Regions from separate parts of the Homo sapiens genome. Here region 2 is linked to region 1. Evidence: fine-mapped expression QTL. A gene starts in region 1. The other region holds a variant in brackets. All regions are shown on one strand. Distances are between the middles of the regions. Region 1 holds the start of NUP98 (nucleoporin 98 and 96 precursor). Region 2 overlaps NUP98 (nucleoporin 98 and 96 precursor).

The links. PIP is the estimated chance that this variant, and not a neighbour inherited with it, causes the effect. A credible set is the group of variants that fine-mapping cannot tell apart.
Region 2: its variant is the best candidate, but not a certain one, in a credible set for the expression of NUP98 in whole blood (TOPMed, PIP 0.54).

Annotation. Positions count from the first base shown.
Region 1 is chr11:3,795,282-3,799,670 of GRCh38, reverse strand. NUP98 (nucleoporin 98 and 96 precursor) reads left to right here and starts at 2,117. Exons shown (of 33, transcript NM_016320.5): 1 at 2,117-2,271. It also overlaps a transcript of PGAP2 not described here. RefSeq lists silencers at 2,101-2,270, 2,351-2,440.
Region 2 is chr11:3,701,994-3,706,382 of GRCh38, reverse strand. It overlaps NUP98 (nucleoporin 98 and 96 precursor), which reads left to right. Exons shown (of 33, transcript NM_016320.5): 22 at 1,027-1,183; 23 at 3,491-3,920. Among named protein-coding and RNA genes, the nearest start is that of CHRNA10, 33 kb to the right of the region's middle. RefSeq lists an enhancer at 3,803-4,302. The variant A/T (reference allele first, on the strand shown) is at 1,978.

The sequences.
Region 1 (4,389 bases):
ACAAATAAATCAATTATCTCTAATCCCTTGCCATCACCGAAAACCCAGATGGCTTTAAACTCATTTACATTTTAGGTAAAAGCCCAGTTCAATTTTGCATTCATGTCTCACAAAGGAGTAGTGGTGGAGGTTTTTTAAAAATTTTTTTTGAGATCACTCTGGAGCGCAGTGGCAGGATCTCCACTCACTGTAATCTCCGCCTCCCTGGTTCAAGCCATTCTCGTGCCTCAGCAAACCGAGAAGCAGCTGGGATTATAGGTGCCCACCACCATGCTTGACCAATTTTTGTATTCTTAGTAGAGACAGGGTTTCATCATGTTGGCCAGGCTGGTCTCGAACTCCTGGCCTCAAATAATCTGCCCGCCTCAGCATCCCAAAGTGCTGGGATTACAGGCATGAGCCACCAGCCCGGCCAGTATACGCTTTGCTTTCTGCGCACAGTTCCTGCTATGAGACTCTCAGTCACTAAACAGGTCTAGTTTCTAGAAAATGCCCACCTTTCACTCTTGTAATATCAGTTTTCTGCTAATGGGCTAGGCCCCAGAAGGACTTCCAAGAAGAGCCCAAGGCACAGAAAACCGAGGGTAAATAATAGGATACAAAGTGACAAGGCTTTAACAGAGGCCTGCCCAAGCATTAGCTCAACTCGCTGTGAAAGCTTGGCAAATGTATCACTGAGAAGATGGGAACATTTGAAATACCCGTCCTTTAAGAATAAGTAGGGGTTCGGCTGGGCGCGGTGGCTCACGCCTGTAAGGCCAGCACTGTGGGAGGCCGAGGCGGGCGGATCACCTGAGTTCCGGAGTTCGAGACCAGCCTGGCCAACATGGTGAAACCCCATCTCTACTAAAAATACAAAATCAGCTGGGCGCGGCGGCGAGTGCCTGTAATCCCAGCTACTCGGGAGGCTACGACAGGAGACTCTCTTGTACCTGGGAGGCGGAGATTGCAGTGAGCCGAGATCGTGCCACTGCACTCCAGCCTGGGAGAAAGAGGAGACAGAGCAAGACTCCATCTCAAAAAAAAAAAAAAAAATTAGTTCATGGGCGAGGTGGCTCACGTCTGTAATCCCAGCACTTTGGGAGGCCGAGGCGGGTGGATCACTTGAGATCAGGAGTTCGAGACCAGCCTGACCAACACAGTGAAATCCCCGTCTCTACTATAAATACAAAAATTAGCTGGGCCTGGTGGCGGACGCCTGTAATCCCAGCTACTTGGGAGGCTAAGGCGGGAGAATCGCTTGAACCCGGGAGGCAGAGGTTGCAGTGAGCCGAGATTGCGCCAATGCACTCCACCCTAGGCGACAACGCGAGACTTCATCTCAAAAGAAAAAGAAAAAAAAAGAATTAGGGGTTCTCCACGTGCAGCTGGGAAAGACGTTCCAACAATCCTCATTTGTACCAGGCCCTTTGGTGGGCCAGTCCCTTAGGGCATCTCTAATGCTCCTAATGTCCATCCTAGAAATTCAGGGAGGGAAAGAAAGTGCTGGGGCGAGCATGGGTCAGGAGAGAATAGGGTCAGGATTTAGGGCCCTGAAGAAGCCTCGGGCAAACTCTTTGGACAGACAGACCTTCCAAGAGGGCCCTCAGGCTCCGCACGTGGTCTGGGCGGGAAGTGCGGGCAGAGAGACTAGGAAGCCTTCCCAGCAGCGCCGGCGGACCGGGGCAAGGAAAGGGTCGAATAGTTACCATGCCATTCTGGGGCCGTCCCTCTGATTGGCCCGAGCTCCCTCAGCCCGAGTCGCGGCGCTCCAAGGAAGGGGGCGGAGTCTCTATGTTGCGTCACCACCCTTCCCGACACCCCGCCGGTGCTTCCCAATCTAGCCATTCACAAGCCCACTTCGAGAGGCCCTGTGTGACGTCACGACACGCTCCCGCCAACCGCGGCGGCGAGGGGCGGGACTCCACGGCCCTCTCACCGCTCCTACCCTGTGCCTCCCCGAACTCCTTCTGCCCCTCCTCTTCCCTCTCGCCCCTTCCCCCTTCAGTTCGGTTTCAAAAGACGCGTTGCCCAATGAATAACAGGGTCGACCCAGAGTGGCGGCCGCGTCCACCAATTCGCGGACGGCGAGGGCGGAGCGTCCGCAACGAGCCTCTGACGCCGGGCGGCGTGTGACGCAGTCGGGCCCTCTGCGCGCTGCGCCCGAAGCGGCGGTCGGTGGCAGGGGTGGTAGCGGCGGCGGCGACGGTTTCGTGGGGGCCGCGCGCTGCTCTGTGAGCGGCGGGTGGCAGCAGGGGACTCCTGACACTTCCCCTTCCCCACCGAACCGCGGTAAGTCGGGAGCCCGAGCTGCAGCGGCCGAGACCGGCAGGTTTCTCCCCCCTTCCGGGCGGGCGGACGCGCGGGGCGTCTCAGGGCCTCTCCGCTTCGAAGTCTAGCGCCGCTGCGCGCACCTTCTGGCCTGAGAGAGGGGCGGTGCTGAGGACCCGGGGGCCCGGAGCCCGGGAGGCCCGGCTTTGGAGGCCCTGGGAGAGAATGGACATCAGTGGGGTCTAGGCCTGGAGGTCTCCAGTTGCTGCCCACGCGAGTGGGTGTCTGTCTGGTTGTACTCATTCATTCAGTGGTGTAAGGACCCCACGGTGGGCTGGCCTTTCCGGGGTCAGCGCCTTGAAACCCTGAATACGGTCTGCCCCGCACTTCCTTGACCGTCATGTGGGACTGGGCTTTATTTGCCTTGGCTTCTCCATAAGGGAAGTGGGCACCCCGAGGATTAGGGTGAGTCCGAAGTTTGGGAGATTTTTAAGATAATATCTGAGAATAGGAGTCGGTTCGGTGGAGCAAAAGGTTCTTTTCTATTTTCCCACGTGTTCAGTGTAAAGCCAGATGAGGAGACAGATTGAGTTTCTGGATTACTATAGCCATAAGGACTTTAGAAATTGTTTAAGTCAATCCCCCTACCTTACATCAGTTTTGTAGATGGGGAAACCGAGGCCCGGAGTAACAGGCAGGATTAGCCAATGCCAGATTTTTGACAGTCTAAACAGTTTTCTACTACCTCACCCTCCCTGGATATTTCAGTCTCCCATTATTAAGAATTCCCTTTAGGAGGTCGGTGCGGCATGGACATTAGGTAGCTAAACGTAGATGTAGTCTTCACAGCGTTTTCCGTTTAGTTGCTACCAGCTCTGTTCACGGGTAAGGTGGAAGCTTCGTTAGTGGTACCCTAACCTAGAGCTTGAGAACTAAACTTAGAAGATGGTTAAAGAACGTCAGCGTTGTTATGTATCGGAAACAAATCGGTAAAACTACAAGCCATTGTTTCCCTTTCTAAATCTGAATTTTTTGACTTGTGTCAGCTGATGAGGACTCGGAGTCAGTTAGGGATTTATAACAGTACTGGAATAGAAAGCAGGAAATATTGATAAGACTTAGAAAGCCAGGTAGGAGTCCGTTTGTAGTAGTTGTACCTCGGAACTCATGGCTCCTTTCAGGTACAGAATTCAAAGTGAAGTATTATAGTAGAATAAGGTGAGGAAATAAAACTCCGTTTTGGAGGAAGAAGCTAACTGGAATAAAGAGCAAAAAGAGAGCAGTGATCATTCCCTGTGACGGTCTTACAAATTCGAAAAGAAACTCGAGTTAACTGGGTTACAGTATGTTTACCTGGTGGAGGAAGTTAGGGTATTTAAAAACCAAAACTAGAGGTTGGACAGGATAAAGGTACTGGGAAATACTTGGGTAAAATTATTCTTTTTGACTCTTCAGATTTGATGAAATTGAATTAGTTGACACTTGGTTCTGTACACATCAGTAAGATTGTTACTTTGTTCTTGTATAGATGACAAAGCATAAACTCAGAACTAGTAGTGCAGAAGAGAACCGTAGTCTAAATAGTAAAGCGTGAACAGGGTATGTTTTCCGTGACATTTTCTCAGTTCAGGCATCACCCTCTTCTGGGAAGCTTTTCTTGGCATTCTCTTCTCTGCAAGCTTCCATAACACTTATTTGATATTTCTATTTATAGCACATATCATTTTTATTTTAGCTGTTTTTTTAATTAGGCTGGTAAAATATTTTCATCTTATCTTTGTTGTCCAGTTGCTTGCCACATAGTAGGCCCTCAGTAAGTGTGTTTACTTGAATGAATAGACAAATATGGAGGAGTTATACCTAACAGTAGTCAATAGAGAGGCTCCTGAAATATGGGGCCCAGATAAGATAGTTCCTGCTGTTTATATGTTATGTGATACTTTGGTCCCTGACATTTATTTGTTTATTTATTTATGAGATAGGGTCTCACTCCATCACCCAGGCTAGAGTGCAGTGGCGCAATCTCGGTTCACAGTAGCCTCTACCTCCTGGGCTCAAGCAATCTTCCCACCTCAGCCTCCCAAGTAGCTGAGACCACAGGTGTGCACCACCATACCCAGCTAATATTTTTTTGTATAT
Region 2 (4,389 bases), 93 kb after region 1:
TAGGATCAGGTCTCTTCCTTGGTTATTAAGATCATTGAGTGCTCACTGTAATGGGGAAAAAAAATACAAGAATATGGCCAATGTCTGGGCCTCATTCTCTTATTCAAGGAGATAAGGCTATATTGAGAACTAGTAGATAGGGTTTCTGGTTTTAACTGCATTAGAATCCAGAGTCCTAGTTCCAATCCCAATTTTGTTGTGTTTTGTTTTTGAGGCAGAGTTTCTTTGCTCTGTCGCCCAGGCTGGAGTGGAGTGGTGTGATCTTGGTTCACTGCAACCTCCACCTCCTGGGTTCAAGTGATTCCCCTGCCCCAACCTCCTGTGTAGGTGAGATTACAGGCGTGTACCACCACCACACCTGGCTACTTTTTTTTTTTTTTTTTTTTGTATTTTTAGTAGAGAAAGGGGTTTCTCCATGTTGGTCAGTCTGGTCTCGAACTCCTGACCTCAGGTGATCTGCCCGCGTTGGCCTTCCAGAGTGCTAGGATTATAGGCATGAGCCACTGAGCCCGGCCCCAATCCCAATTTTGTAACTTTATTACTTTGTGCAAGTCATATAATAGCTGTGAGTACTGATTTTTCTCTATAAAATATTACTTTGTCTACATCACAGGGTACTTTTAAGACTCTGTATGTGCTCCACAAAATTTAAAAATTTTAGTACCTAGTAGCACAGGTTTCTTTAAGCTATGTCTTTACTTCCCTTTATCCCAGTGCCTTTTGGTGTGTTATGTGTTTAACCTTTGGCTTATGTTTGACTTTAAAATTATTTTATCAGCAAACATAGCAACTGCTGTGTGCCAGGCTCTGGTGAGACGCTATAGATACAAAGAAGAGAAGTATTATATGAATTCTGCCTTTCAGGCACACACAGTGTAATGGGGTCCATCCATCACACAAATATACTAGCTCTGTACACAGCCTTGAGGAGGAACAATATTTTTGGTTGTTGTAAACTGCATTTTTTTTTGGTATGGCCTTTTGATTCTGGGAAGCACATTCATTCTATAGATATTGCCTTTTTAGATCATGAAAGCATCATTGCTTACTGATGAAGAAGATGTAGATATGGCACTGGATCAACGCTTCAGTCGCCTGCCTTCCAAAGCAGATACTTCTCAAGAAATCTGTTCTCCCAGACTCCCCATTTCAGCATCCCACTCGTCGAAAACTCGTTCACTAGGTACAGTATAAAAGATGCTATTTTACAAGAAAGCTGTACAGTCATCAAGTCCTGCTTTTCACTTTTCTTCTTCTAACCCAAGTGGACTTCTCTAGCAAGTATCTGCCAAACAACTATACCTGTGACATAAGGGTGCTAAGAGAAATTGTACTTATAAGTATTCATTAAGAGTAGCCAGGTTTTTTGTTTTTAGAGACAGGGTCTCTCTCTGTTGCACAGACTGGAGTGCAGTTATGCAGTCGCACTTACTACAGCCTTGAACTCTTGGGCTCAAGCAGTCCTCCTGTCTCAGCCTCCTGAGTAGCTAGGACTATGGGCATATACCCACTACTCAACTAATTATTTTTTTAAATGTTTATAGAGATGGATCTTGCTATCTTGCCCCAGGCTGGTCTTGAACTTCTGGCCTCAACTGATCATCCTGCCTCAGCTTCCCAAAGTGCTGAGATTACAGGTATGCGTCATTGCACCTGGCAGGAGTGGCCGGTTTTTAAGAACTAGAATTACCTCTGTTTGTGCAGATGCAGAAGTGTATGGAGAAAAAAAGCATTTGTGCTTTGTTTAGGTTCATGTTTTTGTTTGCTTATGAATGTGGATTAGATAGTAAGCTCTGACTTCCCAATTTTTATAACATTACTTAGTTCAGCAAGTTGTCCTGCACTATACTTGTTTTGTGCAGTCCTTACAGCACTGTCTTATTGTCTTCTAGGGACAAGTATTGCTTCTCGTAATGCACAGAGCACATCAGATTTCTACTTTTCACTAAACCTTTTTAAATTCCCAGGGAAGTGATT[A/T]CATATTTGATTTTAAAGTTTTCTCTTTTCTAGTGGGCTTGTAACTATGTGGGATTGGAAATAAAGTTTTAATATCAGCAAAGAACTTAAGCAGATGTAGTTTCAACATATTTTGAAAGCCAGAGGAACTGGCAGAGAGACATTTGTTTATATTGCTTTAAAAACTAAATATTTTTCAATTCTTTTGAGTTCCCTTATTATCAACTTTGCTTTTTAAAAATATTTTTAACTTCCCTTTGGTATAGAGGAAAGAAAGAAAATATATTAACCAAAAAAGTATCAGTTAAACATTCTTAATAACCTTTTCCGTAATGGATACTACATGAAAATCTGGTACTTCAATAATATTTAACTCCATGCTTTAGACAAAAGCCACGTAAAATTGGGAAACAGGCACTGGTAATAAGAACTGTCCTTCAGCCGGGCACAGTGGCTCATGCCTATAATCATAGCACTTTAGGAGACTGAGGAAGGAGGATGGCTTGAGGCTAGGATTTGGAGAGCAGCCTGGGCAACATAGCAAGACTCCATCCCTATAATAGCTAGCTAGCTAGATAAAAATTTAAATGTTAAAAAAATTTTTTTTTAAAGAACTGTCCTTCAGAAGGTCACATGTACAATTGTAAGATACCTAGTGTGTTTTTATTTCGTTGACTGTAGCATTGTTTAGAGTAGAGTAGGAATTTGAGTTTTGATCTTACTTTTATATGTGCTAAGAAATCGTTACCTTTAGGATTCTGATAAGGGCATGAGGAGTGGTGCCAGACTTAACCTTGGCTTGTCTCCTGGTCCTGTCACTTTGTAGATTTGGACAAGTCACTTATCTGAGCTCAGTTTTCTCATATATACAATAGGAATGATAATAATGCTAATCATTTAAAAGTTTTTGAGGCCAAGTGCAGTGGCTCATGCCTGTAATTGCAGCACTCTAGGAGGCTGAGGCAGGTGGATCACGAGGTCAGGAGTTCAAGACCAGCCTGGCCAACATGGTGAAACTCTGTCTCTACTAAAAATACAGAAAAGTTAGCCAGGCATGGTGGCGGGCACCTGTAATCCCAGCTACTCGGGAGGCTGAGGCAGAGAATTGCTTGAACCCAGGAGGCAGAGGTTGCAGTGAGCCAAGATCATGCCACTGCACTCTAGCCTGGGCTACAGGGCGAGACTCTGTCTCCAAAAAAAAAAAAAAAAAGTTTTTGAAGAGTGAAATGAAATAACATATACAAATGACTTATACAGAGCCTGCTGCATATTTTTAAATAATATTAATAGTGTTGTTGCTTTTATTATTGTTGTAGATATCATCATCATCATTAGAATCTTGTCCTGATTTCCTAGTTCAAAGAGTAATTTCTGCAAAATCTGACTTAGCCTGCTTCTGGTCATCCACATCTGATATAAGTAGTTTGATTAAACATTGAATGATTTCAGCCTTACTGATTTTTGTTATTGTTCAAGAAACAATAGCTTGTGTTTTGTAATAGTCTTTCTCCCCTTCATTCCCGCTTCATTTCAGTTGGTGGGTTACTACAATCAAAATTTACAAGTGGAGCTTTTCTTTCACCAAGTGTCTCTGTGCAAGAATGTCGTACTCCCAGAGCAGCATCTTTAATGAATATCCCATCCACATCCTCTTGGTCTGTCCCTCCACCCCTGACTTCTGTGTTCACAATGCCCAGCCCAGCCCCTGAGGTTCCGTTGAAAACAGTGGGTACACGTAGGCAACTAGGCCTAGTCCCTCGTGAAAAGTCTGTCACCTATGGCAAGGGAAAACTCTTGATGGACATGGCCCTATTCATGGGACGCTCATTTCGTGTTGGTTGGGGCCCCAACTGGACTCTTGCTAATAGTGGAGAACAGCTGAATGGCTCTCATGAACTAGAAAATCATCAGATTGCCGATTCCATGGAGTTTGGATTCCTGCCCAATCCAGTAGCTGTTAAACCGTGAGTCACATTTCTTGATGCTTTTTGAGAAAGGCAACATGATAGGTGAAAAAAACTAATCAGGAGGATAGGGCCCTGCTTTGTCATCTTTCTAGAGAGAGAGAGAGAGAGAGAGAGAGAGAGAGAGAGAGAGAGAGAGAGAGAGAGAGTGTGTGTGTGTGTGTGTGTGTGTGTGTGTGTGTCTCAGTTTTGCTCTGTTTCCCCGGTGTGTGTGTGTGTGTTTTTGAGTCTCAGTTTTGCTCTGTTTCCCAGGCTGGGGTGCGGTGGCACGATCTCAGCTTGCTGCAACCTCTGCCTCTCAGTCTGAGGCTCTTCTCCTGCCTCAGCCTCCTGATAAGCTGGGATTACATGCACACGCCACCACACCCAGCTAATGTTTCCTGAGCTCAAGTGATTGTCCTACCTTGGCCTCCCAAAGTGCTGGGATTACAGTCATGAGCCACCTTGCCCAGCCTATCCTTCATTTTTA